Linked DNA regions of Homo sapiens: region 1 is linked to region 2. The links come from fine-mapping of genetic effects on gene expression. A gene starts in region 2. The other region holds a variant in brackets. All regions are shown on one strand. Distances are between the middles of the regions.

Region 1 (16,209 bases), 89 kb after region 2:
ACTCCTGACCCCAGGTGATCTGACCCCAGGTGATCCGCCCTCCTCGGCCTCCCAAAATGCTAGGATTACAGGTGTGAGCCACTGTGCCCGGCCTGAGTCATTGCGCTCAGCCAAATTTATTTTTAAGATGTTTTTCTTTCTTCAATAATAAATTAACCTTTGCTTCCTGGAACTTTTTTACTTTATAAACTTTAAACTTTTTAGCTTTTTGACTCTTGTAATAACACTTAGCTTAAAACACATATCGTACAGCTGTACAATACTTTCTTTCTTTAGATCCATATTCTCTAAGCTTTTTTTCCATTTTAAATTGTTTTGTTTTTACTTTTAATGTTTTTGTTAAAAACTAACACACAAACTCACACACCAGCCTAGGCCTACACAGAGTCAGGATCAAGATGTCACTAAGCAGTAAGAATTTATTAGATCCATTACAATGTTACAGGACCAACGTTTATATGCAGTCTGTTGTTGACTGAAACATCACTATACATACAGCGCATCAGTGCATGACCGTATTTGACTATTTTCTGGTTGCATATTAGTCCTGAAATGTCAAGTACCAAATAATTTACTTCTCAGATCTTCATCTCCTACATTCATAAGGCTATTCTAAATGGCTAAAGTCTGCCTAAACTCAGACCTACAGATAAAATGAAGGTTATTACTGGAAAATTTTATTTTATTTGTGTGGCACCCATTTCCTAGGGTAGTAACAACCTTTGACACAGAAAAAAAATGTTCCCCCACTCATGTTATATAGCACTATTACAAAATGATTAATAAGAAATTTTCCTTCACCATATCCCACAAATTTAACTTACCCTATCATAGAGCTCAATGATTAAATGGTAAGCAGCTTCATCACTTCCAAATTGAAAATCTACAATTCTATCCACACCAAGCTGTTTTGCACTGACTAATCTCCGACTCTTCAAATGTTTTCGGCACTAGCAAGAGAAAGAAAAAGGCATTCATTTAGTAAAAGTGAATTCCTAACCATTTGGTATTGGTTTATAAATAAGCTTCTTTTCATTATCATCAGGAATATTTAAAACGTTGTGAATAACAGTATAGTCATAAAGTAATAGATTGCAGATGATAATCAGAGGGAAAACATTTTATTATAAACACTAACTCTGAAACAGTGTTTTATTTGCATTTTTTTAAGACAGGGTCTCACTCTGTCACCCAAACTGGAGCCCAGTGGTGTGATCATGGCTCGCTGCAGCCTCGACTTCCCTGGCTCAGGTGATCCTCCTGCATCAGCCTCCTGAGGATTGGGACCACAGGCACATGCCACTATCCCCAGCTAATTTTTTCATTATTTGTAGAGACAGGGTCTCACTATGTTGCCCAGGCTAATCTCAAACTCCTGGGCACAAGCAATCCTCCTGCCTTGGCCTCCCAAAGTGCTGGGATTACAAGCGTAAGCTACTGAGCCAGGCTTTTATTTTCAATTTTTAAGTAGAGAATGATGGACCTATAGCAAAATTTGCTTTGTTGCTTTATACCACTGCTAAATTCCTTGTTGTGGTCCTAATGACCTCACTCATAAGCCACAACCTTTATTTATTTACTTTATTTTGAGAGAGAGTCTCGCTCTGTCGCCCAGACTGGAATGCAGTGGCACAGTCTCAGCTCACTGCAACCTCCGCCTCCCAGGTTCAAGTGATTCTCCTGCCTCAGCCTCCTGAGTAGCTGAAATTACAGGCGTGTGCCACCACACCCGGCTAATTTTTCTATTTTTAGTAGAGACGGGGTTTCACCATGTTGGTCAGGCTGGTCTCGAAGTTCTGACCTCGTGATCCGCCCACCTCAGCCTCCCAAAGTGCTGGGATTACAGGCATGAGCCACTGTGCCCAGCCAACCTTTACTTATTTATTTATTTATTTATTTATTTGGAGACGGAGTCTCACTTTGTCACCCAGGCTGGAGTACAGTAGCACAATCTTGGCTCACTGCAACTTCTGCCTCCCAGGTTCAAGCAATCCTCCTGCCTCACCCTCCCAAGAGTAGCTGGGACTACAGGCGCCCACTACCACGCCTGGCTAATTTTTTGTATTTTAGTAGAGACGGGGTTTCTCCACGTTGCCCAGGCTGGTCTCGAACTCCTGAGCTCAGGCAATCTGCCCACCTCGGCCTCCCAAAGTGTTAGGATTACAGGCGTGAGCCACCACACCCAGTCCCTTTATTTTTTTTAAGTCTCTTTGATGACACTTCTAAGTATGCCAAATTTCCCTTTTGTATGCTTCATTTATGTTCAAAATTAATTAATTGTTTCCACTAATCTTCTACTTCTAATACATATCAACTATGGACCATGAGCTTATGGCTTATGGTATCCTGTAAATAGTCCACCACCTTATATCCAGTTACCCCTACCAATTCTTTTTTTTTTTTTTTTTTTTTTTTTTTTCTTTAAGAGAGTCTTTGCCAGGAGCGGTGGCTCAGGCCTGTAATCCCAACACTTTGGGAGGCCGAGGTAGGTGGATCACTTGAGGTCAGGAGTTCAAGACCAGCCTGGCCAATATGGTGAAACCCCATCTCTACTAAAAATACAAAAATTAGCTGGGCGTGCTGGCGCATGCCTGTAATCCCAGCTACTCAGGAGGCTGAGGCAAAAGAATCGCTTGAACCCAAGAGGCGGAGGTTACAGTGAGCCGAGATGACACTACTGCAATCCAGCCTGGGCAACAGAGCAAGACTCTGTCTCAAAAAAAAAAAAAAAAAAGAAAGGGACAGAGTCTCTCTGTTGCCCAGGCAAGGCTCAAACTCCTGGACTCAAGCAATCTCCCACCTTAGCCTCCCAAGTAGCTAGGATTACAAGTGCCCTGCCACTGTGCCCAGCTTATTCCTACAAACTTTACTAATATAACCCAAAGAGAATTTTCCTGGTATCGTCTCTAAGCTTTTGATAACCTATTTCAATCCAATGTAATAACTCTCATTCTTTATTAAATCCCCTTCCTCCTATCCCTGGCCATAAGGTTCTTTTTCTTATTAACAATTAAAATAATATTAGTATATCAAATCCAAATACAATTTACTTGGCAATACCTACTCTTTTAGATTACATGTACCGTCTTTTTGTACAAATATTGAAGTATGACATGGACTGGTAACAAGACTACTCTGTAGCCTCTAAAATATCTTACAATTGTTTCTAATTTTTTAATATAAAAGACCCTTTAGTTAAGACCAATAAGAAAGAATGCTTTCTTCAAGACTCAAATACGGTCTGGGTATGGCAGCTCACGCCTGTAATCCCAGCACTCTGGGAGGCCGAGGCAGGCGGATCACAACGTCAGGAGTTCAAGACCAGCCTGGCCAACATGGTGAAACCCCATCTCTACTAAAAATACAAAAATTAGCCAGGCATGGTGGCGTGTGCCTGTAATCCCAGCTACTTGGGAGGCTGAGACACGAGAATCACTTGAACCCAGGAGACTGAAGTTGCAGTGAGCCAAGACTGCGCCACTGCCCTCCAGCCTGGTGACAGAGCAAGACTCCGTCTCAAAAAAAAAAAAAAAAAAAAAGACTTAAATACGAAACAAATTTTACAGAAGTTAATCTAAGACCACCTTCAAAAAAAAGACAAAAAATCCACTCCTTGACAAAGGTTGAAAAAAAACAACAATAAACACATAAATTCATTATTAAAATTAATGCTAACATTTTCATAACTAAGAAGAGTTCTTCTCCAGACCTTATAGCCCAAATTGACTGAAATTCGCATTTTATATACTCACATAGGCAGAATAACTTCCTAGGATAAACAATCTGCTCCTCCTTAACTCAGTAGTTTTAAGAATGACCTATACTGATTTGATTAAACAGTAACCTACATGTAGGGCTATCTTTAAATCCCTAGAGGAAAATCACAATCAGTTCTTCCAGAGTCCCTGAGTAATAATTTTATTCAAGAAAAATAAAGACAAAAGGCATCATTGAAAGGACAGAAGTTCACACAAAGGAATAGTAAAAAGGGGATTATTTATCATGGAGAGTACAGATGGACACATAGTACATATTTAAAGCTTGTTTCATTTCCCTATCAACAGCTTGGTGAAATCAACCTGCTGCTGTGTGCCACAAAGCTATAGCTGTCATCCCCAAATGTGAATACTGGAACAACCACTGTGATTTATCACATAATAGACATAACTCTGCCTGTGCCATGCAACAGTAACAGCTCTTTGATTTATAAAGTGCTTAACATTGTCTGCTCCATTGAGGAAATCTTTCTATACATTTAGATTGACACGTACACCTAACCCATAGAATTCTAAGTATTTTTTAAAGTGACTGACCTATTAGTGTAGTCTGATTTGGAGATGTTTACACAATCCCAGTGTCCTATTTCATTGGCCTGTTACCTCATCCATAAAACTGAAATTGTATTTGTTCTTCACAGTCCACTGAGTTGCTAAACAACTTAAATGAAATACATATTATTCATCTGCCTTAAAAAGTGCTACACAACAGGTAGCATTATTATTGTCATTATTATTAAGGACAGGCCCCAAAAGAACTATTTTGGGTTACTATTAAATAAATTAAACTTTAATAATCTGAGAATTTTGTGAAAGCCCTTGTGATATGGAAACACTTACCTAATTTGTAATCCAAAACAGACTCTAAATTGCTGGGGGGTAAAGCTCTTCTCTGTAAAGCCTCTAATGAAATAACTCAATGCCATAACAGATACATTGCCAAAGTAAGGAGCGGAGCAGGAAGGAAATGAACATGTATGGAGTTCTAATATGTGTCAGGTATTGTTTCAGGTGCCTTTCTTTTTTTTTTAGATGGAGTCTCGCTCTGTCGCCCAGGCTGGAGTGAAACAGTGCGAACTCAGCTGACTGCAATCTCTATCTCCCAGGTTCAAGTGGTTCTCCTGCCCCATCCTCCCAAGTAGCTGGAATTACAGGTGTGTGCCACCACGCCTGGCTAGTAGAGACAGGGTTTCACCATGTTGGCTGGGCTGGCCTTGAACTTCTGACCTCAAGTGATCCACCTGCCTCAGCCTCCCAAAGTGTTGGAATTACAGGCATGAGCCACCGCACCTGGTCTGTTTTAGGTGTTTTATATATCATTTCAATTAATCCAATAATTTCATGAAGGAGGTACTATCCACATTTTACATTTAAAGAAACTAAATTCCAAGAGGTTAAGTAACTTTTCCAGGTTATAAAATTACTTTCTGACAAAGCTATTAATTCAAAGTTAAGTATATGTGACTCGAAAGTCTCGTGTACCACATGAATTTTCAATCTATATGTTACATCAATAAAAGAATGGGTAGCATGCCCACCCATGTAAAAATCTGTTTTAATAGTAAAAACAAAACAGAAAAATAAAAAGACTTAGTAACATATTAATGTCAGTGAGTATTCCAAAAAAAAAAAAATACTGACTGGGTACAGAGGAATACGACTCACAAAAGTGAGCTCTGGAAGATAAGACTAGGAAAAAAAGGTGGGGCAGGGAGGAGAAAGAACACAGAAAGCCAAGAATGTTAGGCTATAGAATATGGATTTAGAAATCAGGAAACCATAAAAGGTGAGGTAACTAATGAAAATTATACTTTAAAAAAATTAATGTTGGGCCAGGCGCGGTGGCTCATGCCTGTAATCCCAGCACTTCAGGAGGCTGAGGCTGGCGGATCACCTGAGGTCACGCATTTGAGATCAGACTGGCCAACATGGTGAAACCCCATCTCTACTAAAAATAGAGAAATTAGCCGGGTCTGGTGGCACACGCCTGTAATCCCAGCTACTGAGGAGGCTGAGGCAAGAGAATCACTTGAACCTGGGAGGCAGAGGTTGCAGTGAGCCAAGACTGTGCCACTGCACTCCAGCCTGGGTGACAGAGCGAGACTCCTTCTCAAAAACGAACAAAAAAACAAACAAACAAAAACAAAAAAATTAACGTTGGTCTAATTTAGAATTGTTTTGATGCAGAGAAGTGAATTACAGTTAAGGAACTGTAAGGCTGAATGTGATAAAAGCTTGAACTCTAATAGTGACTGTGGAAACAGAAGATCTGGAGCAGAACAGGATGTGAAAGGTAATGGGGAGAAATCAATTAATAAATATTCACTTTATTCAACCCATTATCTGTCAACCACTCCCTTTACCTTCATTTTATCTGCACTTTATTCGTAACAGTGAAGGAAACCCCAATTAAAAACTTAATTGTTAGTGAGCAATCTCTTAAAATTTAGCTTCAAGCGTAACAAGTTTACCTTCATGGCAAAACTAGACGGCATCATATTCTTAGGCCACTCAAATTCTGTTGTATGAATTCGTATGCCAGATTCAAGTAAAAGTGTAGCTTTAAAGTCCGGTCTGTAGAAGAAAAAAGTCGAATTTTTCTTTAGGGTATATGCCAAAGCTAATTGCTAAACAGGCTTAAAATGTAGGTTAAAAAAAATCAGTAATCTCATACTTAATTGTCAAAGAGAAAATAAGCCTATAAAATGTTCTTACTTTTGAAGACGAATAAGGTATGTCTTATTATCCACATCATAAACATTGTTTACTCTCATTCCTAGCAAGCTGCAAAGATAAAGGAAACATGTAACATGTTACACTATTGTCTGAAACATAAAACTACACATAATTTAATAAAAGCTTCGAAAGAGCGGATCTCAGTCTCTAAGGATATGGAGTCAGCCGAGGAGCAGAGTCTGAAAGCCATTTGGAGATTCAGTTCAAAACTTAAGAGTAACGATTTAAAAACAGAAGTGGTCTATCAGCTCTAGGAACAACACACTATAGCTTGCGTCTTCCAAATGACCCAATTTTGGGGGAGAAATACAGTAAAATATAATCCAATTAATTTATTACAAGGGAGAAAAAAAAAAGATAAAAGAGGGCCCCGAAAATATGACAAAGCTCACAGGGCTGAATAATAGAATCCAGACTAGAATCCAGATCTCAGTCCAAATCTGCTCAATCCAGCTAAAACCGCGATGCTCTCTCTCTCTCTGGGGTGAGGGGAGGGAGGTGTTCAAGAAACCAAGCCCCCAGTCTGGAAACCTCTGAAGCAAACGACCACTCTGGCGTCTCGTGTTTTAACAAACGTTTCCTGCCCAACCCGGACAACCCAGGCCAACAATGCAAGAGCTTCGCGCTAGCGGGGCAAGCCAGAGAGCTGGGAGGACGCGGGGGATGGGGCACGAGGTGCCTGGGACCCCCAGGGGTATCCTAAGGGTCACGGGAAAGACACCACACGCCTGCCCACTCAGGCCTAGGCAGGTCCATAGACGCACTAGGAAATAAGGAAACATATCAAGCTGGTCTGTTTGCGCCATGGGACTCCGGCCTCTGCCTCCTGCACTCCCCACACGAGCCTCGTCACTTAGGGTACTGTACCTAGCATTCAGCTCCGCGAGTACGGCGCGGAGGTCAATGGTGCTAAAGCGGCTCTTCATGGCGAGGCCCGAGGGTCACTACCGCA[A/G]GTTCCTCTACTGCCCGGCCGGACTCGACGCCACTTCTCCTCCGCGCAGGCGCACTTGGCGGAGCTCTACGGCCGCGCAGAAGACCCAATATTCCTCGAGGCGAACGTATTTGTGTCGCTTTTCTGAAGATTTCGATTGTCAAGTTGCAGCTGACTCTCTTCATTGTACCAAAATTCAAATTCGAATAAAGATTCAAACTGTTCTCTTGAAACTGCATTCCTTCCTGGAACCCTTACGGACCAGTCTGGTTACCGTGCCCCATTGTGTCTTGGGCTCAAGTCAGCCTTCATAGTGACCCCTGCTGGTCGAAACAATTTTCGAGATGATTATCAGGAGTATTTCCCCACAGGGGGGCCGTAGGGCTCAGTGTAGAAGAGCAAGGACCCCTTTCTGCGCGCTTACTTTGACATAAGATTTTGAAATGTAACGAAACGGAACTGCTTCGGTCCTTCTAAGATTATCCTCAACGATCGAGGCGAACTCTCAAAACGGAGTTCCTATTTTGATGGGTCCTGCTCTCGGAAGGAGCATTCTGCAATTGATTACAGGATTCTCATCGAACCTCGGTCTTGGTACCCCTGAGACTCACCGCAGTACCTGGTGTACAATCGGTGCTCCATAAACACTTGGCAGCATGAATGTGCAAGTGTTTAGCTAGATAATGGTGAAATAAGATAAAAATAAAAACAAGAAGATTCCCAATGGGGGTGGGGTGGGAGGGGGGATTCACAGTGTAGTGAGGAAAATAGTCCTGTAAGAATGTAAATTCTGCATTTCTTTTGTCTTAGGATAGATGCATGGGAAGAAAGGCTACTTTATAAGGTGAGAACTCAAAAGAGGCAGGGTCTCACTATGTTGCCCAGGCTGGAGTGCAGTGGCTATTCACAGGCGCAATCCCACTACTGATCAGCACGGGAGTTTTGACCTGCTCCGTTTCCGACCTGGGCCGGTTCACCCCTCCTTAGGCAACCTGGTGGTCCCCCGCTCCCGGGAGGTCACCATATTGATGCCGAACTCAGTGCGGACACCCGATCGGCATAGCGCACTACAGCCCAGAACTCCTGAACTCAAGGGATCCTCCAGCCTCAGCCTCCCGAGTAGCTGGGACTACAGGCACGCGCCACCGCGCCCGGCGCTCGGCGTCGCTGCAAAAGAGCTGCTAGAGGCTTGCAGGCTACACATGGTAGCAACCAGAATTCCTACCACCAGAAGGCGACTCTAAACAGAAAGGGCGCCGCTGCTATTTCAGAACTGGTACCAGTAGATGCAAAAATGGCTATAGCACATACTGCACAGCATTACTGTCATACGGTACAGTAAACCATACAGAATGGCCCAAAATATGAAAGCATTGGGGAGAAGGTGGAGAACAGGGAACTTTTGTATGCTGTTGATGGGAATGTAAATTAGTAGAGCCATTGTGCAAAACAGTATAAAGGCTCCTCACAAAATTAAGAATAGAATTACCATGTGATCTAGCAACAACATCACTATCCTGAAGATATATGTTCATGTTCATTGCAGCATTATTCACAATAGCCAAGATATAGGGATAATCTACTTTTCATCAATGGATGAACGGATAATGAGTGCAAATATATATGTACACACACACACACACACACATACATACATACAGTGGAATATTATTCAGCTTTCAAAAAAGAAATAAATCTTGCTGTTTGCAACTGGCATGGATTTAACAACATGGATGAACCTGGAGGACATTATGCTAAGTGAAATAAGCCAGACATAAAAAGACAAATACTGCATGATCTCACTTATACGTGGAATCTAGAAGTTTCTCATAGAAACAGACAGCAGAAATGTGGTTTCCAGGACTTGGGATGTAGGGGAAATGGGAAGATACTGGTCAAAATGCACAAACTTTCGGTTGTAAGTAGAGTAAGTTATGGAGACTTAATGTACAACATGCTGATTATAGTTCATAGTAATGTATTGTATGCTTGAAATTTGCATGGGAACAGAAAACCAAATACCGTATGTTCTCACTTATAAATGGGAGCTGAATGATGAGAACACATGGACCCATGGAGGGGAACAGCACACACTGGCGCTTATCAGAGGGTGGAGAATGGGAGGAGGGAGAGGGTCAGCAAAAATAACTAATGGGTACTAGGTTTAATACCTGGGTGATGAAATAACCTGTAAAACAAACCCCATGACACAAATTTACCTATATAACAAACCTGCACATATACCCCATGAACTTAAAATAAAAGTTAAATTAAAATAAAAAACAGAAATTTGCTAAGAAAGTGGATATCAAATACACACATACAAAGTGTGAGGTTATGGATGTGTTAATTGGCTTGATTGTAGTAATCATCTCACAGTGTATACATACATCAAAACATCACATGGCTGGGCCGGGTTGCTCACACCTATAATTCCAACACCTTGGGAGGCCAAGGCTGGCAGATGGCCTGAGCCCAGAAGACCAGCCCGGACAACATAGTGAGGCCCCCTCACCAATCTCTACAAAAAAATAAAAAAATTAGCCAGGTGTGATGGCATGTACCTATGGTCCCAGCTACATGGGAGGCTGAGGCAGGAGGATCCCTTCAGCCCAGGAGGTCAAGGCATGGTGGCCATAATTGTGCCACCACACTCCAGCAGGAGCTTCAGAGTAACACCCTGTCTAATAAAAAAAAAAAAAAAAAAAAAAAAAAAAAATTGGCCGGCTGCAGTGGCTCACGCCTGTAATCCCAGCACTTTGGGAGGCCAAGGTGGGTGTATAACCTGAGGTTGGGAGTTCAAGATCAGCCTGGTCAACATGCTGAAACCCTGTCTCTACTAAAAATACAAAAATTAGCCGGGCGTGGTGGCAGGCATCTGTAATCCCAGCTACTTGGGAGGCTAAGGCAGGAGAATCACTTGAACCCAGGAGGTGGAGGTTGCAAAGAGCCGAGACTGTGCCATTGTACTCTAGCCTGGGCAACAAGAGGGAAACCCTGTCTCAAAAAATATATATATATATAATATTTATATATATAGATATATGTATAATATATTTATATAATATGTATAATATATTTATATAATATTTATATAATATGTATAATATATTTATATAATATATAACATATTTATATATATATACACACCTCAAATATATGCAAATTTTATTTGTTCCCATAATTCATTTTACACTACTATAACAGAACACCACAAACTAAGTAATTTATAAAGAACATAAATTTAATGCCTCACAGTCCTGGAGACTAGGAAGTCCAAGATCAAAGGACTGGCATCTTGAAAGGGCTTTCTTGGTGTTACATCCCATGGTGGAAGAGCAACGAGAGAATGAGAGAGACAAGAGGACCAAACTCATCCTTTTATAAGGAAACCATTCCCATTTCTTTTTTCAGTAGCCCGAAACTGAGCCCCAGGCACTGTCTTATATAAAATATTTTAGTCTCTTATAAGCTTAGCATTAACCATCACTATGTTTGGCCTCATCAATAGATGTCTGGAATCTAGAATGAGAGATGGGATTTTTCAGTCCTATGCTTAGAGAGTAAATCAGAGATAGAATACATTGTTGTGTACTGGGGAATCATATTTTCCCAGAAAGACATACAAATGGAACAAACAGAATAGTGGAATTCAATTGAAACCATGTAATACAAAAAATAGTTGTGGTTCTTCTGGGTAAAAATAATGCTAAATTTGTTATTTATAACCCCAAGGGTTAAAGAAAGTACTAATGAAAAAATTTTAGGGCAATGGATTAAATCTTAACATAAGGAAGAACTTTCCGGTAGTAAAGACCGTTCAAATATTATTTAGAGATATATTCAGGCACTAAAAACCATTAAGAATAACAAGAGAATGCCACGAAGTCAGAATAGTGGTTATTTCTAAGAGGAAAGGTACTTGGGTGCGGGTTTCTGGGATGCAGGCAAAGTTCTATTTCTAGATGCCAATTATATAGTTTCTCACTTTATAAATTCCTTAAACTTACATTATGTGTATGTCTTATGCACAGTTTCATATGTACGACACAGCTCACAAAGTTTAAAAAGCAAAACAGCCAGGCACAGTGGCTTGCGCCTGTAATCCCAGCCCTTTAGGAGACTGAGGCAGGTGGATCACTTGAGCCCAGGAGTTTAAAACCAGCCTGTGCAACATGTTGAAATCCATTCTCTACAAAAAATATAAGAAACTAGCCAGATGTGGTGGCATGCACCTGTAGTCCCAGCTACTAGGGAGGCTGAGGTGAGAGGACCACCTGAGCCCAGGAGGTTGAGGCTGCAGTGAGCTGTGAGTGTGCCACTGCACTCCAGCCTGGGTGACTGAGTGAGACCCTGTCTCAAACAAAACAAAACAAAATAAATTTTAAAATGAAATTAAAGAGGCTGGGCACGGTGGCTCACACCTGTACTCCCAGCAATTTGGGAGGCTGAGGCAGGCGCAGATCACCTGAGATCAGGAGTTCGAGACCACCCTGGGCAACATGGTGAAACCCCATCTCTACTAAAAATACAAAAATTAGCCAGGTGTGGTGGCACATGCCTGTAATGCCAGCTACTGGGGAAGCTTAGGCAGGAGAATCACTTGAGCCTGGGACGTGGAGGTTGCGGTGAGTCAAGATCGCAACACTATACTCCAGCCCGGGTGACACAGCGAACGAGACTCTGTCTCAAAAACACAACAACAACAAAACCAAGAAGTTAAAGAGTAGGTATGATAGAAATTAAAAATGGCCACACATTCTTTAACACTCATGAAGTAGGTTCTGTTTTCTTCCCATCTTTGAATCCAGGGTAGCCTGTGATTCCTTTGACCAACAAAGCGTGGTAAACAGAAGTGATACTATGCTATTTTTGGCTCTAGCCTTTAATAAGACTTGTAGCTTCCAGTTTGGCCTCTTGAAGCTTGAGTTACAATGTTAGAAGTCTAATACCCTACCGTAGAGAGGCATTGAGACTACAGGGAGAGGAAGAGGAGCATGTCTTTACAGCCAAGCCTGTCAAGGCAGAGGCATGTGAATTCAGTTATCTTGGGCCCTACAAATTAGACCAGCCACCAGCTGAATACCACAATCAACTTCGCCTGGAGCAGAAGAATGTTCAGCTGAGTTTTGCTACAAACTCCTAACCCTCAAAGTCATGAAACCTAATAAAACCTAGTTGTATTCTCAAACTACTAAATGTTGGAGTAGTTTGTTATACGCAATAAATTACACAAAAATAGGCAGATTTAAGCAAATACATTAAAAAAGAAAGTAAGGGCCGGGTGAGGTGGCTCATGCCTGTAATCCCAGCACTTTGGGAGGCCGAGGCAGGTGGATCACGAGGTCAGGAGATCAAGACCAGCCTGGCCAAGATGGTGAAACCCCTTATCTACTTAAAAAAATACAAAAATTAGCTGGGCACGGTGGCAGGCGCCTATAATTCCAGTTACTCGGGAGGCTGAGGCAGGAGAATCGCTTGAACCCAGAAGGTGGAGGTTGCAGTGAGCCGAGATTGCTGCACTCTAGCCTGGGTGACAGAGAAAGACCCCGTCTCAAAAAAAAAAAAAAAAAAAAAAAGAAAGTAAGAGTTCCGCTATATTAAATTTGGCCTAAGGCTGCTGCTGTACCTTGAGTCCCTTAATACTGAACAACAATCCAATTTGGTACGTAAACAAATAGAAAGCTTACGAGTATATTCTTGTAACAAATAGCTGTCTCAGCCATCACAGCTGCCAAGCTTCAGCTAATCATAGGCTGTTAATTGAGCAAATCATGTCCAAATAAGGCAAATACTTGGCTGTAACCAATCAAGCTGTTTCAGTATCTCACTTCCCTTCTCTATCTGTGAATAGTCTCTGCCCACAATGTGGAACGCTCTGAATCTCTTCTGGTTCTGAGTGCTGTCCTGTTCATGAATCATTCTTTGGTCAAAAAACTCTGAAAAATTTAATTTGTCTGAAGTTTTTTTTTTTTTAACAGTTCTCATATTACTAGTAAACAAATTTAACCTGGGCATGGTGGCATGTGCCTATAGCTCCAATTGCTTGGAAGGCTGTGGCAAAAGGCTTGAGCCCAGGAGTGAGGCTGCAGTGAGCTATGATCTATGATCATGCCACTGCAATCCAGCCTGGTGATGGAGCAAGACTCCATCTCTTAAAAAAAAAAAAATAGAGTTTTAGAATAAGAAAACATTGTTTTGTACAAGGAATATTATTTTATTTATGTATTTTTTTTTTTGAGACAGAGTATCACTCTGTCACCCAGACTGCCAGACTGGCTCGGCTCACTGCAACCTCCACCTCCCGGGTCCAAGTAATTCTCCTGTCTCAGCCTCCTGAGTAGCTGGGATTACAGGCGTACACCACCACACCCAGCTAATTTTTGTATTTTTAGTAGAGACAGGGTTTCGCCATGTTGGTCAGGCTGGTCTCAAACTCCTGACCTCGTGATCCGCCTGCCTCAGCTTCCCAAAGTGCTAGGATTACAGGCGTGAGCCACTGTGCCCGGCCTAGGATGTTATTTTTAAATCAGTGAAGTACATACTCTAAAAGACAAAAGTCATAAACATTTATGTGAATATTTATATCCTCTTGGCATGGGTGAGACCATTCAAAGCAAAACACCAAAAGCAGAAAACATAAATGATTAGATTAACAGATCTGAATACATTAAAGGGGTATTATTTTTGTTTTGTTTTGTTTTGTTTTTGAGACCGAGTTTCACTCTTGTTGCCCAGGCTGAGAGTGCAATGGCTCACTCTTGACTCACCTCAGCCTCTGCCTCCCAGGTTCAAGCGATTCTCCTGCCTCAGTCTCCCCAGTAGCTGGGATTATAGGCATGTACCACCACACCTGGCTAATTTTGTATTTTTATTACAGATGGGGGTTTCTCCATGTTGGTCAGGCTGGTCTTGAACTCCCGACCTCAGGTGATCTGCCCGCCTCGGCCTCCCAAAGTGTTAGGATTACAGGCGTGAGCCACTGCGCCCAGCCCATAAAAGTTTAAAGTCACTATATGTCAAAAATATTCCACCATAACCCTAATCTTAACCCTAAACATAATTAAAAACTTAAAAGTGTAGTCCACACACACGCACACACACACACGGAAAAAAATATCAATGTGAAAATGTGTTCAACTTAAAAGTTGTTTTTTTTTTTTAAAGTATAAGTATGTTAAAGAACACAGTTACTGGCTGGGCACGGTTGAGGTAGGTGCATCACTTGAGGTCAGGAGTTCGAGAAGACAGTTACTGAAAGGATACCTTTCTGACCTCTCAGAGTTTTGTCAGTTACAGACTGAGCTTGATTCCCCCCATGTATTACTTTCCTATTCTGTGGTAATTTGCTGTATCAAATTACCACAAATTTAGAGGCTTAAACAACATAAATTTATTATTATTATTATTGAGATGGGGTCTCACTCTGTCCCCTTGGCTGGAATGCAGTGGGACACTAACAACTCACTGCAGCCTCAACCTCCTGGGCTCAGGTGATCCTCCCACCTCAGCCTCCCTGGTAGCTGAGACTACAGGCACATACTACCACACATGGTTAATTTTCATATTTTTTGTAGAGACAGGGTTTCACCATTTTGTGCAGGCTGGTCTCCAAATCCTGAGCTCAAGCAATCCACCTTCCTTGGCCTCTCAAAGTGCTGGGAATTACAGGTGTGAGCCACTACATGCGGCCAAATTTATTATTTAAGAGTTCTGGAGATCAGAAGTACCAAATTGGTGAAGAGGGCTGCATTCCTTCTGGAAACTCTTGAAGAGAATCCCTTTCCTTGCCTTTTCCAGCTTCAGGGGGCTGTCCACATTCCTTGGTTAGTTAGCACATAGATATCTTTGGGGAGGGGGTCATTATGCTGCCTATTGCACCTCAGTTCCACAAAGCTGAGTTATCCCAGAGGTCATGGTACTCAGGAAGTAGGAACCCCAGGGCTAATGGAGGCAGCTACTCAAAAGCAGTTCTTACATCCATAGCTAAGTCATTCTGGGTCCAATTCAGGGATCCATTTAGTGAAAAACAAGAGATACAAAAATTAGCCGGGCATGCTGGTGTGTGCCTGTAATCCCAGCTACTCGGGAGGCTTGAGGCAGGTGAAGCGCTTGAACCCGGGAGGCAGAGGTTGCAGTGAGCAGAGATCGCTCCCCGGAACTCCAGCCTGGGAGACAGAGCAAGACTCTGTCTCAAAAAAAAAAAAAAAAAGATATACCAAAATTATTTTGCTTCTTATTTTAAGGTTGGTGAGAAGGTAAAGTTTTTTTTTTTTTAAAATAGCATCTCTACCTATTTTCATTTTGTAAAAATGCATTCATTTGGAGGTGATTTTTTAATTCTTGAAAAGTTGTCCTGAAGAACCGGAATCAGACCTATTCCATGTGGTTGCAGAGGGCAGACCCAGAAGCAGCCATGGGGGAGATACCTGTTTTATTCAAAGAGGATCTTTTCTGACAGTTATCCTTGTTCAAAATGCAATGAACTACCTCAAAAAAAAAAAAGGGAATACAATTAGCTTTATAAAAAATTTAGTACAATGCTTCTTTCCTCTTTCATTTTATAGACAGTGAGGAAAATCTGTGTTTAGTGCTTAGAGTCTTTAAACTCCCAGTAGATTATCAGATTAATGTTAAGACTGATGTGAATGCTTAACCAGTTTCCACTGGCCCTAAAATGCCTGAATTTAACAGTAAGCCCTCCAAAACAGTTATTTCATATAGATGAAATTTCTAATCACAGACCACCAAGAACTTTTGAAAAAT
Region 2 (15,035 bases):
TAGTTTGCTGAGAGTTCTTATCATGAATGGGTGTTGGATTTTGTCCAGTGCTTTTCCTGTATCCATTGATGTGCTCATGTGATTGATTATGTAAATTGATTTTTTTTGTTGTTGTTGTTGAGACGCAGTCTGGCTCTGTTGCCCAGGCTGGAGTGCAGTGGTGTGATCTCGGCTCACTGCAACCTCCACCTCCCGGGTTCAAGTGATTCTCCTGCCTCAGCCCCCAAGTAGCTGGGATTACAGGCTCCTGCCACCATGCCAGGCTAATTTTTGTACTTTTTAATAGAGACAGGAGTTCACTACGTTGGCCAGGCTGGTCTCGAACTTCTGACCTCAAGTGGTCTGCCCACCTTGGCCTCCCAAAGTGCTAGGATTACAGGCATGAGCCACCGCACCTGGCCGTTAATTGATTTTCAAATGTTAAACCAGCCTTGCATATCTGGGATAAATCCTACTCAATTGTGGTATATAATTCTTTTTGCACAGGATTTGCTAATACAGATGTTCCACAACTTTTGTTGGTGTTAAGTCCCAATAAGCCCATTGTAAATTGAAAATATAAATCAAAAAATGCATAGTACACCTAACCTACCAAACATCATAGCCTAGCCTACCTTAAACAGGCTCAGAATACTGGCCAGGCATGATGGATCATATCTGTAATCCCAGCACTTTGGGAGGCCAAGGTGGGCAGATCATAAAGTCAAGACATCGAGACCATCCTGGCCAACATGGTGAAAACCTGTCTCTATTAAAATGCAAAAAATTAGCCAGGTGTGGCACCGGGCGCGGTGTCTCACGCCTGTAATCCCAGCACTTTGGGAGGCCGAGGCGGGTGGATCACGAGGTCAGGAGATCGAGACCATCCTGGATAACACGGTGAAACCCCATCTCTACTAAAAATACAAAAAAATTAGCTGGGCGTGGTGGTGGGTGCCTGTAGTCCCAGCTACTCGGGAGGCTGAGGCAGGAGAATGGCGTGAACCCGGGAGGCGGAGCTTGCAGTGAGCTGAGATCGTGCCATTGTACTCCAGCCTGGGCTACAGAGCGAGACTCCGTCTCAAAAAAAAAAAAAAAAAAAAAAAAAAAATTAGCCAGGTGTGGTGGCCTGCTCCTGTAGTCCCAGCTACTCGGGAGGCTGAGGCAGGGCAATCGCTTGAACCCGGGAGATGGAGGTTGCACTGAGCCAAGATTGGGCCACTGCACTCCAGCCTGGTGACAGAGCAAGACTCCGTCTCAAAAAAAAAAAAAAAAATGCTCAGAATACATATATTAGCCTATTGTTGGGCAAAATAATCTAAGACAAAGCCTATTTTATAATAAATCGTTGAATACAGTATAGTACAGTATTGGTTGTTTACCCTCATGATTGCATGGCTGATTGGGAGCTGCAGCTTGTCACAGCTGCCCAGCATAAGCGAGTATGATATTGCATATAACTAGCCCAGGAAAAGATCAAAAATCAAAATTTGAGGTACAGTTTCTACTTAATGGTTATTACATTCATATCATCATAAAGTCAAAAAATCCTTAAGTAGAACCATAGTAAGTTAGGGACTGTTTGTATTTTGTTGAGAATTTTTGCATCTATATTTATGAGGGGTATTAGTCTGTAGTTTTTTTTACCCTGTCTTTGCCTGGCTTTGATATTAGGGTAATGCTGGCCTCATATAATTAGTTAAGATATATTTTCTCAGGCTGGGCACAGTGGCTCACACCTGTAATCCCAGCACTTAGGGAGGCTGAGGTGGGTGGATCACTTGAGGTCAGGAGTTCGAGACCAGCCTGGCCAACATAGTGAAGCCCCGTCTCCACAAAAAATACAAAAAATTAGCCAGGTGTGGTGGCAGGCGCCTGTAATCCCAGCTACTCAGGAGGCTGAAGCACGAGAATTGCTTGAACCCAGAAGGCGGAGGTTGCAGTGAGCCAGGATCACATCATTGCGCTCCAGCCTGGGAGACAAGAGTGAAACTACATCTCAAAAAAAAAAAGGAAGAAGTATTTTCTCTGCCTCTAATCTTCTGAAAGAGATTGTAGAGAATTGGGGTGTTAAAGTCTCCAGCTATTTTTGTATTGGGGGTCTATCTCTCTCTTTAGCTCTACTAATATTTGCCTTAAACATCTGGGTGCTCCAGTGTTGAGTGCATAGATATTTAAAATTGTTGGCCAGGTGCGGTGGCTCATGCCTGTAATCCCAGCACTTTGGGAGGCTGAGGCAGGTGGATCACCTGAGGTCAGGAGTTTGAGACCATCCTGGCCAACATGGTGAAACCCTGTCTCTACTAAAAATACAAAAATTAGCTGGGTGTGGTGGCACACGCCTGTAGTCCCAGCTACTTAGAAGGCTGAGGCAGGAGAATCACTTGAACCTGGGAGGCAGAGGTTGCAGTGAGCCGAGATGGTGCCACTGCACTCCAGCCTGGCGACAGAGCAAGACTCCATCTCAAAAAAATAAAATAAAATTGTTATATCCTCTTGCTGAATTGACCCTTTTATTATTATGTAATGACTTTGTCTCTTCTTACAGTTTTTGTCTTGAAATTTATTTTGTCTGAATAAGTATAGCTTCTCCTGCTCTTTTGTTTGTTTGTTTCCATTGGCATGGAACATCTTTTTCCATCCCTTTATTTTCAGACTGTGTGTCTTTATAGGTGAAGTGCATTTCTTCCAGGCAACAGATCATTGAGTCTTGGTTTTTTTTTTTAATTCATTCAGCCACAACATGTCTTTTGATTGGAGACTTTAGTCTATTTACACTCAATATTATTATTGATAAGTAAGGACTTACTCCTGCCATATTGTTATTTGTTTTCTGGTTCTTTTGTGGTTTTCTCTTCCTCCTTTCCTTCTTGTCTTCCTTTTAGTAAAGATGATTTTCTCTGGTGGTATGATTGAATTTCTTGCTTTTTATTTTTTGTGTTTCCATTATATGTTTTTTTGATTTGAGGTTACCATGAGGCTTGCAGATACTATCTTAAAACCTATTATTTTAAGCTGATAGCTACTTAACACTGCTTGCATAAACAAACTAACAAGCAAAAAGTAAACTAATAAAACCTCTACATTTTAACTTAATTCCCCAGCTTTTTAATTTTTTGTCATTTCTATTTATTATTGTCCTATATATGTCTTGAAAATTTGTTGTAGTTATTTTTGACTAGTTCATTTTTAGTCTTTCTACTTAAGAGTAGTTTGCACACCACAGTTACAGTGTTATAATAGTCTGTGTTTTTCTGTGTATTTACTATTACCAGTGAGTTTAGTACTTTCAGATGATTTCTTACTGCTCACTGACATCCTTTTCTTTCTGATTGAAATACTCCCTTTAGCATTTCTTATAGGACAGGTCTGGTACTGATGAAATCCCTCAGCTCATGTTTGTCTAGAAAAGTCTTTATTTCTCCTTCATGTTTGATGGATATTTTCACTGGACATACTATTCTAGGGCAAAAGTTTTTTTTCCTTCAGAATTTAATTTTGTTTTATTATACTTTAAGTTCTGGGGTACATGTGCAGAACGTGCAGGTTTGTTACATAGGTATACACGTGCCATGGTGGTTTGCTGCACCCATCAACCCGTCATCTACATTAGGTATTTCTCCTAATGCTATCCCTCCCCTAGCCCCCCACCCCCCAACAGGCCCTGGTGTGTGATTCCCTGTGTCCATGTGTTCTCACTGTTGAACTACCACTTATGAGTGAGAACATGATGGTGTTTGGTTTTCTGTTCTTGTGTTAGTTTGCTGAGAATGATGGTTTCCAGTTTCATCCATGTCCCTGCAAAGGACGTGAACTCATCCTTTTTTATGGCTGCATAGTATTCCATGGTGTATATGTGCCACATTTTCTTTATCCAGTCTATCATTGATGGGCATTTGGGTTGGTTCCAAGTCTTTGCTATTGTGAATAGTGCCGCAATAAATGTGTGCATGTGTCTTTATAGTAGAATGATTTATAATCCTTTGGGTAGATACCCAGTAATGGGATTGCTGGGTCAAATGGTATTTCTGGTTCTAGATCCTTGAGGAATCGCCATACTTGTCTTCCACAATGGTTGAACCCCGGAGGTGAAGGTTGCAGTGAGCCGAGATTACGCCACTGCACTCTAGCCTGGGTGACGGAGCGAGACTCTCGTCTCTCAAAAAAAAAAAAAAAAAATTTATTCTTCTGTTTCCTCTGTGTATTTTCAAATAGCCTGTCTTCAAGCTCACCATTTATTTCTTCTGCTTGATCAATTCTGCTATTAAGAGACTGATGCATTCTTCAGTATGTCAGTTGCATTTTCGAGCTCCGGAATTTCCGCCTGATTCTTTTTAATTATTTCCATTTCTTTGTTAAATTTATCTAATATTATTCTAAATTCCTCTTCTGCATTATCCTGAATTTCTTGAATTTCGTTGAGTTTCCTCAAAACAGCTATTTTGAATTGTCTATCTGATAGTTCACATATCTCTGTGTCTTCAGGATTGGTCCCTGGTGCCTTATTAAGTTCATTTGGTGTGGTCACGTTTTCCTTGATGGTCTTGATACTTGTGGATGTTCATCAGTGTCTGGGCATTGAAGAGTTAGGCATTTATTGTAGTCTTCACAGTCTGGGCTTGTTCGTATCTGTCCTCCTTGGAAAGGCTTTGCAGCTATTCAAAAGGATGTGGGTGTTGTGATCTAAACTGTTATCTGCATTGGGGGGGATTCCGTGCCCTGTGAACTGTGGTTCTAGCAGACTAATAGAGGTGCCACCTTGGTTGTCTTGGATAAGATCTGCAAGAATTCTTTGGATTAACAGATAGAGACTCTTGTTCTCTTCCCTTACTTTCTCCAAACAAATTGAGTCTCTCCGTTCTGAGCTACCTGGAACTGGGGGTATGGTGATGCAAGTACTCCTGTGGCCACCACCACAGGGACTGTGCTGGGTCAGACATGGAGCCAGCACAGCACTGGATGTCACCCAAGGCCTACTGTAACCCCCACGTGGCTACTGTATAGGTTTCCTGAAGGCCCTAGGACCCAGGTGGCATGGTCAGCCAGGCTTTTGTCCTTCTCTTCACAGTGGACCTTTCTCTCTTTCTAACCCATTACACTTAGGTTACACCTTTTGTGATTGTGCCACAGTTATTGGATATTCTAGGGGAGTCTGAGGTGCCTTTTTTTTTCTTTTTGGTCTTTTTTCTCTTTGCGTTTCAGTTTTGGAAGTTTTATTGACATACCCTCAAACTCAGAGATTCTTTCCTCAGCTATGTCCAGCCTACTAGTTAGTTCATCAAAGGCATTCTTCATCTTCGTTACAGTTTATTTGATCTCTAGCATTTCTGTTTGGTTCTTTCTGAGAATTTCCATATCTTCTCTATTTACCTTACCCATCTGACTTAAGCAATCCTCCCACCTCAGCCTCCTGAGTAGCTGGCTGGTTCCACAGGCGCATGCCACTATGGCCGGCTAATTTTTGTATTTTTTGTAGATAACAGTGTTTTGCCCTGTTGCCCAGGCTAGTCTTGAACTCTTGGGCTCAAGCGATCTGCCTGCCTAGGCCTCCTAAATTGCTGGGATTATAGGGGTGAGCCACTGTGCCTGGCCATTACCCATCTGTTCTTGCATTTGACTACTTTTTCCATTAGAGGCTTTAGCATATTAATCATAGTTGTTTTAAATTCCTAGTCTGATAACTTCAACATTCCTGTCTTATCCGAGTCTGCTTCAGATGCTTGCTCATTTCTTCACACTGTGTTTTTTGTTGTCATTGTTTTTTTTGAGAGAGTCTCACTCTGTTGCCCAGGCTGGAGTGCAGTGGTGCGATCTTGGCTCACTGCAACCTCTGCCTCCCAAATTCGAGTGATTTTCCTGCCTCAGCCTCTGGAATAGCTGGGATTACTGGCATGTGCCACCACACCCGGCTAATTTTTGTATTTTTAGTAGAGACAGGGTTTTGCCATGTTGGCCAGGCTGGTCTCAAACTCCTGACCTTAGGTGATCCACCCGTCTCGGCCTCCCAAAGTGCTGAGATTTCAGGCATGAGCCTCCACACCCAGCCCACGATGTTTTGACTTTTATTATGCCTTGCAATTTTTTGTTGAAACCTAAACATGATGAGCTGGGTGAAAGAAACTCTGGTAAATAGGCCTTCTGTGGTGTGGTAGTAAGAAGTGTGGGGAGGGAAAGCATTCTGTAGTCCTATAATCATCTGTCTTTTTAGGAGCCTGTGCCCCTGGACTATCAACTTCACCCCAGTTCTCAGTTTTTCCCCCACTTAGGTGGAACAGAATGGCTAGAGGCGGCTGGAATTAGGTATTTTCCTTTTGCCAGGTAGAGTAGGCTTTGATAAAATAGTTTCTCCTGAGGCAGCCCTTGTTAAGAAGAACTAGCATATTTCAAAATGGTTCCTTTTTCCTTACCCTTGCTGGAAGCATGAGATAATTTTTCTCTGATATTTACTGTAAGAACCTAAGAGACCTCCTGGAGGTAAACTCAAAAAAGTGTGAGGATCGTCCTATGACTGGGTCCCCCGGAGTTGTGGTTTTGTTTATTTGTTTGTTTTTTTGATACAGGGTCTTACTCTGTTGCCCAGGCTGGAGTGCAGTCATATGATCTCAGCTCACTGCAGCTTCCTGGATATAAGCAATTCCTGTGTCTCACCCTCCCTAGTAGCTGGGACTACAGGCAAGTGTCACCAAACCCGGCTATTTTTTATATTTTTAATAGAGATGGGATTTCACTATGTTGATCAGGCTGATCCCGAACGCCTGACCTCAAGTGATCTGCCCACCTAGGCCTCCTAAATTGCTGGGATTACAGGCATGAGCCACCACACCCAGCCCCCTGGAGTTTTTAAGTCTAAAACGTGTTCACACTGAGCCTCCAACAAGTCATCAATTACTGTAAAGTTTTTATGCTCCCAAACTGGTAGCTCAGAAGGTTTTTGCTCATGGGTTTCTGCTTTGGTAAATTGTGATTCTCTGTATTCACCCATCTGTCTCTGCAGTTTGACAGGCAGTGGTTTGCACTGTGACCTCACTTCTCTGATTGATCTAAGAACAGTTGTTGATTTTTCAGTTTGCTCAGCTTTTTGTTTGTTGTTAGGATGGAGTGGCAGCTTCTAAGCTGTTTACATGCCAGACTAAAAACTGGAAGTCTTGGGCAGGGCACAGTGGTTCATGCCTGTAATCCCAGCACTTTGGGAGGCCGAGGTGGTGGATCACTTGAGTTCAAGAGTTCGAGACCAGCCTGGACAACATGGTGAAATCCCCCATCTCTACCAAAAATACAGAAAAGTTAGCCGGTGTGGTGGCACACGCCTGTAGTCCCACCTACTTGGGAGGCTGAGGCGAGAGGATCGTTTGAGCCTGGGAGGTGGAGGTTGCAGTGAGCCGAGATCACGCCACTGTATTCCAACCTGGGTAACACAGTGAGACCCCACATCAAAAGGAAGAAAAAAAAGAAATTGGAAGTCTTACAAGAGTATTTTTTTCAGCAAAAGATTTTTTTGCACACATTCTGGATTATGATTATAATGATAGCATTATCAATCATTGAATTTCAAATGACCTATAGTGGATTTTTAAGAATTTTATTATCTTTACAAAGAGACTTTTATTCTTAAACTAACTTCAATTGTCTCTTCTATTTTTATTTGATAAGATGTACAATTTATAGGCAGTGATTAAAAGGTTGGAGGTCCTTTGTTGTTTTTGTTAAGATAATTGAGGGATATTAAAATGAAGGAAGTGAAAATGTCTGAGTATCAATATAGATACACATACAAAGTAGGATAAGTAATGTACTCTAAAGTTGTCAAAGGCCTTGAAATTTTTTTGATTCTATCCCATTTAGGTCAAAATTAGAAAATTTTCCTCAAAAGAAAGTGATTCTGAAAACAATATGCTTTTGCTTTTTTTTTTTTGAGATGGAGTCTCACTGTATTGCTAGCTAGAGTGCAGTGGTATGAGCTCAGCTCACGGCAACCTCAGCCTCCCAGGTTCAAGCGATTCTCCTGTCTCAGCCTCCGGAGTAGCTGGGACTACAGGTGCAGGCCACCACGCCCAGCTAATTTTTTGTATTTTAAATAGAGATAGGGTTTCACCATGTTGGCCAGGATGGTATCAATCTCCTGACCTCTTGATCTGCCCGCCTCACCTCCTAAAGTGCTGGGATTACAGGCGTGAGCCACCGCGCCTGGCCACAATGTGCTTTTGCTTTTTAAAATTAAGTTGCTGATTGTATGCCAGCCATGATCAGAGATGGCTGTTAGCTTGAGAACTGTTTAGTTTAGGACCCCTTTACACTCTTAAGAATTATTGAGTTCCTCCAAGAGCTTTTGTTTATGAGGATTTTATCTATAGATATCTGCCATATTAGAAATTAACACTAATTTTAATTTAGTTTAATGTTTAAATTTTTTAATTTATTACAAAATAACAACAAAATTGTTAACATAAATAACATTTTAAATGAAAAATAACTTTATTTTCCTAATCAAAAGAATTTCAAAAAGAATGATATTGTTTTGCATTTTTATTTTTATTTTTGAGACAGAGTCTTGCTTTCTCACCCAGGCTGGAGTGCAGTGGCATGATCTCGGCTCACTGCATCTTCCACCTCCCAGATTCAAGCAATTCTTCTGCTTCCACCTCCCAAGTAGCTGGAATTACAGGCGCCCACCACCATGCCTGGCTAATTTTTCTATTTTTTTAGTAGAGACGGGGTTTCACCATGTCGATCAGGCTGGTCTCGAACTCCTGACCTCAAGTGATCCGCCCACCTCAGCCTCCCAAAATACTGGGATTATAGGCATGAGACACTGCGCCAGGCCGACTTAAGTGAAGAAAATCTGGCCTCACACAGATACATAGTTAGAAAAGAGAGTTCCTTAAGGAGCCCCTGAAAAGGTCTCCAGGTACCCACGGGGCTTGGAACTATACTTTGATACACTGAGAAACTCTGCTTATAGTACAACTAATTAATGTGTTTCAGAGACTCTTTTTGTTGTTACTGCTCTAAGTAGGATAAAAGTATGGTTTGAAACATAAATAAGTAAATCAAAGTGGATATTATAGTATTTTATTAAATGGCATATATATACGAAATATAGGCTGGGTGGGTGCGGTGCCTCACGCCTGTGATCCCAGCACTTTGAGAGGCCGAGGCGGGTGGATCACCTGAGGTCAGGAGTTCGAGACCAGCCTGGCCAACATGGTGAAATCCCATCTCTACTAAAAAATACAAAAATCAGCCGGGCGTGGTGGCAGGTGCCTTAGTCCCAGCTACTTGGGAGGCAGAGGCAGGAGAATCGTTTGGACTCGGGAGGCGGAGGTTGCAGTGAGCCGAGATCGAGCCAGTGCACTCAAGCCTGGGGGACAAGAGCGAGACTTCTCTCGAACAAACAAAAAACAAAAACGATGATAGAAGGGTAATGTAGCTGGAAGGAGGACACAGCCAGGAATTGAAGCTGGAAAGGCAAGCTGGGTCTGGACCATGCTGGGTCTTCTTGCACAGCACTGTGATATGAATTTTTTTTTTTTTTTTTTTTTTTTTTTGAGACGGAGTTTCGTTCTTGTTGCCCAGGCTGGAGTGCAATGGTGCCCTTTTGGCTCACTGTAACCTCCGCCTCCCGGCTTCAAGAGTTTCTCCTGCCTGAGCCTCCCAAGTAGCTGGGATTACAGGCGCCGGCCACCAAGCCTGTGTAATTTTTTTGTATTTTCAGTAGAGACAGAGTTTCGCCATTTTGGCCAGGCTGGTCTCGAACTCCTGGCCTCAGGTGATCCGCCTGCCTCGGCCTTCCAAAGTGTTGGGATTACAGGCGTGAGCCACCGCGCCCAGCCGAGATATTAATTTTGGATTCTACTAAGGACGACGGGAGCCAGCTCAAGGTTTTTAAGTGACTCGATCAGATTCACGAGGTTGGTTCACAAGGAACTTCGATAACCCCAAAGTCTAGTGAGCATAATTCGACTGGGAGAAGACACTGCTGCAAGGAATTCTGTGAACCAGACAGATTTGAGGGCACCAACCAGGGTGGATGGCAGATAAGGTCTTAACAGCCTCAAGGTGATTTGCTTCCTTGTTGAAGGCTTTAATTAATCCTCTTAAGTAACTTTCAAGTTCTTGAGTTCAAGTAAACACACTGGCACACTAGGGGAGGAGTGGCAGGCTATAAGCATTTTAATAATTAAAAAAAAAAAGCCTTTTATTGTTCAAAGTGTTCCTTTTCTATGGAGTGCTCCCAACCAGAAGATGAGGGAAATGGAGATAATGAAGCACGTCCCTCCTACCAAACACGATAAATTCTACAGGCACTGTAAGATCAAGAATTTAAGATTATTTTTGTCCCACCCTATTTTACAGGTGAGGTATCAAGCACAGTAACTCGTAATTTTCTTTTGGCCCAATTGAAAGGTATCATATAAGAGAAAGCTGTGTGTGCGTGAAAAGGATCCGCCTTTCTTTCTGAAGAAAAGGGTGGTTACGGCTTCGGAAACGCTTTTCAAGCCAACTCTGCAGCCCGGCTGGCGGCGGCAGCGGCGGCGGCGGCAACGTCAGATTCCCGCAGAGGCGGCGCCCGGCAGGGGCGGCAGGAGCTCAGGAGAGGCCCCCGGGGATCGGGCTGGGCCCCACGTGAGAGCTAAGCGACTGCCCTCGCGCCCGCAGAACAGCAGGGCCTGCATCGACTCTAAGGCGAGACCAGAAACTTGCTAGTGGAGCAATTCTGGTGCCCCTGCCCGGGCTGTGAACCCTCTGAGATCATCCCTCAATCAAACGAATAGAAATCCTCGGGAAGAAAAAAAAAATTGCGGCAATCCGGCTAAAATTCAGCAGCTTTCAGGGACCGATTCAGGACATTATCCCTGTGGTTCCCTCAGTGAAAGGAGACTCGAAGCGCGACTAGAAGTCGCCGGGCCCCATAGATCTGCGGTGCCCAGGCCGTAGGCGGAGGCGCGGGCAGAGGCGGCGGCGGCGGCGGCGGCGGCTGGAGGACCCGGCGCTGGGGGCGCTGAGCGGCAGCCTCGCTTCCGGAGCTCGGCGGGCGGCGTCAGCGGAACGGGCGGCTTCCGGCCGCGGCGTAAACAAGGCCGTGGACTGCAGGAGGCGGGGCAGACGGGCTGCAATAGGGAGCCGGCCCGACGCGGACCGCTTCCCTGCAGTGCCCCGAGTCCCGGGCCCGCGCCGCCGCCGCCCGGCTCCGCTCGCGGCCCCTCTGTCTGCAGGCGTGCCCCGGCGGCGGCGGAGAGCCGTCCTCGGCCGAGGAGGCTGGGAAACGCGAGCGCAGGCGGCAGAGAGGCCTCAACGCCGTCCCTTTCGCCACCGCCTTTTCCTTGCCTCGCGCCGCTGTGCATTTCTCTCCTTTTCCTTTGTTTTTTTGGCCCCTCGCGGGTGTGGGCATTGTTGGTTAGCAAAAGTGCAGCCTCAAGATGGCTGATGGCAACGAGGATCTGCGGGCTGACGACTTGCCTGGGCCAGCCTTCGAGAGCTATGAGTCCATGGAGCTTGCCTGCCCCGCTGAGCGCAGCGGCCACGTAGCCGTCAGCGACGGGCGCCACATGTTCGTCTGGGGCGGCTACAAGGTCAGTGAGTGGCCGGGCCGCGACGGACGTCGCTCGGCTGTGACTCGGGTCTGCGTTCGCGGCCAGGCGGGGAGGCCAGAGCGGGCCGCCGAGGGCGCTCCCCGCCTGCGTCGCGCGCCCCACCTCAGACTCTGCCCGTTGGTTGTTTTTTTTTTGCGCGCGGGAATCTTCCTTCTCTCGAGTACCCCAACCCGTCTCGAACCTCCAGGGCTGCTGTCATGTCACCCTGGTGCTCACAAAGCCAACTCACTCCCACCCCCGTTGTTGCCATTGGAGCGTTATTCCGGGGAAGGCCCTGTTAATGTTGCTTGGGCGGTGCATTCGGAAGGGTTGGGGTGTGAAAGGTGACGGTGTGTGATATCACTCAGACGCGTTATGAGGACGGCCTACGAGGACTTCACCCTCTGGAGCTGGGAACCGCTGCCCACTTACAGGGAGGCCGAGGTGTAGGAAAACTGGAATTCCAAAAGGTTACAGGAACCACCTTATTCAGCCTTCCCGCCTGTGCAAATGGCCATCAGGACTGTTTTCCTTCTGGCTTCAGCTGGGTTGAAGTTTTTCAGCAGACACCCCTATTAAGATAATGGAAAAGCTCCACCAGTAACCAAAAAATCCCCAGCATCAAATGAACTACAGAGTGCAGCTCTTTGACTCTCCGATCCCCTGGTTATAAACAACGTGATTAGTTAGCAGTTTAAAGCCAGTTGCCATTCTTTACCCTGCTAACCTCGGAAATCTAGAATTTTATTTGCTAGGATGGCTCTGAGCCAGTCCTACCACAAAATTCCTCTTTGGTCTTGAAAATGTTCTCCGCCCTCCCCACGCCCGTGCCTTGGATGACTTGCTTTGTGATTGTTTTTAGCTTATGGTACAGCTGACTTGATCATAGTTGACCATTTTTGAGATAGCTTTCAAAGATGGCTGTCCTGATACTTTATTTTGGTTTAACTGCAAAAGTAATTTTTTGCCAATCCTAATGAATCTGCAGTGTTTTCCCCAGTTTCCAATGAATGTGGTTAGAAAATAGAAAGGGGGCCGGGCGCGGTGGCTCACGCCTGTAATCCTAGCACTTTGGGAGGCCAAGGTAGGTGGATCAGCTGAAGTCAGGAGCTCGAGACCAGCCTGGCCAACATAGTGAAACTCCGTCTCTACTAAAAATACAAAAAAAAAAATTAGCCTGGCGTGGTGACGGGCGCCCTAATCCCGTCTACTTGAGAGGCTAAGGCAGGAGAATCACTTGAACCAGGGAGGCGGAGTTTGCAGTGAGCTGAGACGGCGCCATTGCACTCCAGCCTGGGCAACAAGAAGGAAACTGTCTCAAAAATACTTTAGAAAGGGGTAGAGAATTGCAAGAAGGGGGGCGGGGGGGCAAGCATGTAGTCACCCTTATAAAAATGTAAATTAATTCCCCTGGAGAAACCTGTCAATGACACTTCTAAGCTACCTAATTCATAATTGTATTTTTAAAATGACAGCATGAGAGAATAAGACTTTGGGAGTGGGGCAGGGGAGGATTCTTAGTGTGGAATATTTCTTGTGGATTTAAAAGGGCCTGGATGATTGGGGCCGATTCAGGGAGGAGCAGCACAATCACTGAATTGGATGGTTCTGAAACAGACTGCCCTCCCCATTTATGGCTGGTGGCTGGAACCCTGAGGGTAGGCACAGAAGTCCTTGGAGATTGTTTCAAAGGCAATAAACCTTGGCTTCCTACATAGTAGGCAGTTTTCCTCCCCAGGACAGGCTGGTCCCCTGTGGGTCAGCCCGCTTCCAGCCTTTCCCTTCATCACTGGTGGGGTGGAAAAAGAAGTTGTTTTACGTGGTCAACTGTTCTGTTTCTGTATGTTTAATATTCAAGCTTGCTGGACTTTGACACCCATTTTTGGCTAACCGCAGTCGTTTACTGTGTCAACATTGTTCAGAAAGTGGCTAGGGAGGGTCAAAGGCTGGGAATGTCAGGCAGTTGTTAAAGTTCAGGGAAAGGATAGAATCCTGGCTCCATCATTACTTCATAAATAACCTTGGGCAAATTACTTAAACTCTAAACTTGTTTTCTCATAACATCAGCTACTTTTTAGGGTTGTTGTGAGGATTAAATAAAGCAATCCATGGATAGCTTTCAGCTGTGGCATATGGTAGGCTCAGTCTGTGTTAGGAATTAATACCTGAAGGGAAATGGAGCAGAACAAAGAACTTAAAATTCTGCATAAGGATTTAATATTTTGCATATTTGCAGTTCTGCCCTCTCTATTGCTGCTTAGAGAATGGATAGGTGAAAGGAAGGCATGGCTAGAAAACCACGCATCGTGTTAGCGTGGATCAGGCACTTTCAGTAACAGCCTGCTGACCATGGCACAGGCAGTCTCCTGAAGTCATGCAGCTGAAATTTGGTGCATGGTTCTGTTCAGGATAAAGCTGCCTTAGAGAGTTCCCAGAGATCTCTTGGCTGGGCACAATGGCTCACAGCCTGTAATCCCAGCACTTTGGGAGGCTGAGGTGGGTGGATTGCTTGAGGTTGGGAGTTTGAGACCAGCCTGGCCAACATGGTGAAACCCTGTCTCTACTAAAAATACAAAAATTAGCCAGGCGTGATGGCGAGTGCGTGCAGTCCCAGCTACTTAGGAGGCTGAGGCAGGAGAATCACTTGAACCCAGGAGGTGGACATTGCAGTGAGCCAGCCAAGATTGCGCCACTGCACTCCATCCTGAGCAATAGAGACTTGGACTAAAAAAAAAAAAGTTCCCAGAGATCTCTTCTTGTCCTATTGCAACTGCTGTATCAAAATTCTGAATTAAGAGCTATCTATGTTGAGCTTTACCTTGAGTGTGTGGCATGGGTGGGGGAGGATTGTGCACTGTAATACCTATTTTTCATACTAATTATGAAATTAGTATCTCAAGATCGATTTAAAAAATACAGTAGTGCCTCTTTAAAATACCAGTTTTTATATTTACAATTTTTTTTATTCTTAGAGTAATCAAGTCAGAGGATTATATGACTTTTATCTGCCTAGAGAAGAACTATGGATCTACAACATGGAGACTGGAAGATGGTAAATGTGGATATTATAAGGGGGACTAAAAAATTCAGATAAGGGCTGGGCACGGTGGCTGGCTCATGCCTATAATCCCAGCACTTTGGGAGGCCAACGCGGGCGGATCTCTCGAGGTCAAGAGTTCAACACCAGGCTGGGGTGAAACCCCATCTCTATTAAAAATACAAAAATTAGCCAGGCATGGTGGCGTGCTAATTCCAGCTACTTGGGAGTCCGAGGTGGGAGAATCGCTTGAATCTGGGAGGCGGAGGTTGCAGTGAGCTGAGATCGAGCCACTGCACTCCAGTCTGGGTGACAGAGCAAAACTGTCTCCAAAAACAAACAAATCAGATATGGCTGCAAAGAAAAAAATGTAAAACACTTTCTAAGCTACTTATATATTCTAAAAACACTGTTCTGCTACTTTAGCTTAGCTGCTAAGCTTAATTTAG

Alleles and levels. Positions count from the first base shown, and alleles are read on the strand shown. Sizes are in standard deviations (SD) of each study's normalised expression.
In carriers of allele A in region 1, the expression in NK cells of the gene that starts at base 11,081 in region 2 tends to be higher than with G alone (large effect, 1.9 SD a copy in Gilchrist 2021).

What was found.
Region 1: its variant is fine-mapped to the expression of KLHDC2 in NK cells (Gilchrist 2021, PIP 0.95).

What each region holds. Positions count from the first base shown.
Region 1 is chr14:49,845,316-49,861,524 of GRCh38, forward strand. It overlaps NEMF (nuclear export mediator factor), which reads right to left and starts at 7,473. Exons shown (of 33, transcript NM_004713.6): 1 at 7,380-7,473; 2 at 6,492-6,560; 3 at 6,248-6,350; 4 at 825-950. The coding sequence starts at 7,438. LOC105378179 (a long non-coding RNA gene) reads right to left here. Exons shown (of 3, transcript XR_943839.3): 3 at 14,579-16,209. It also overlaps RN7SL3. RefSeq lists an enhancer at 7,480-7,719 and a silencer at 8,523-8,582. The variant A/G (reference allele first, on the strand shown) is at 7,465.
Region 2 is chr14:49,757,073-49,772,107 of GRCh38, forward strand. KLHDC2 (kelch domain containing 2) reads left to right here and starts at 11,081. Exons shown (of 13, transcript NM_014315.3): 1 at 11,081-11,549; 2 at 14,522-14,601. The coding sequence starts at 11,397. RefSeq lists silencers at 10,481-10,540, 10,881-10,960, 11,131-11,310.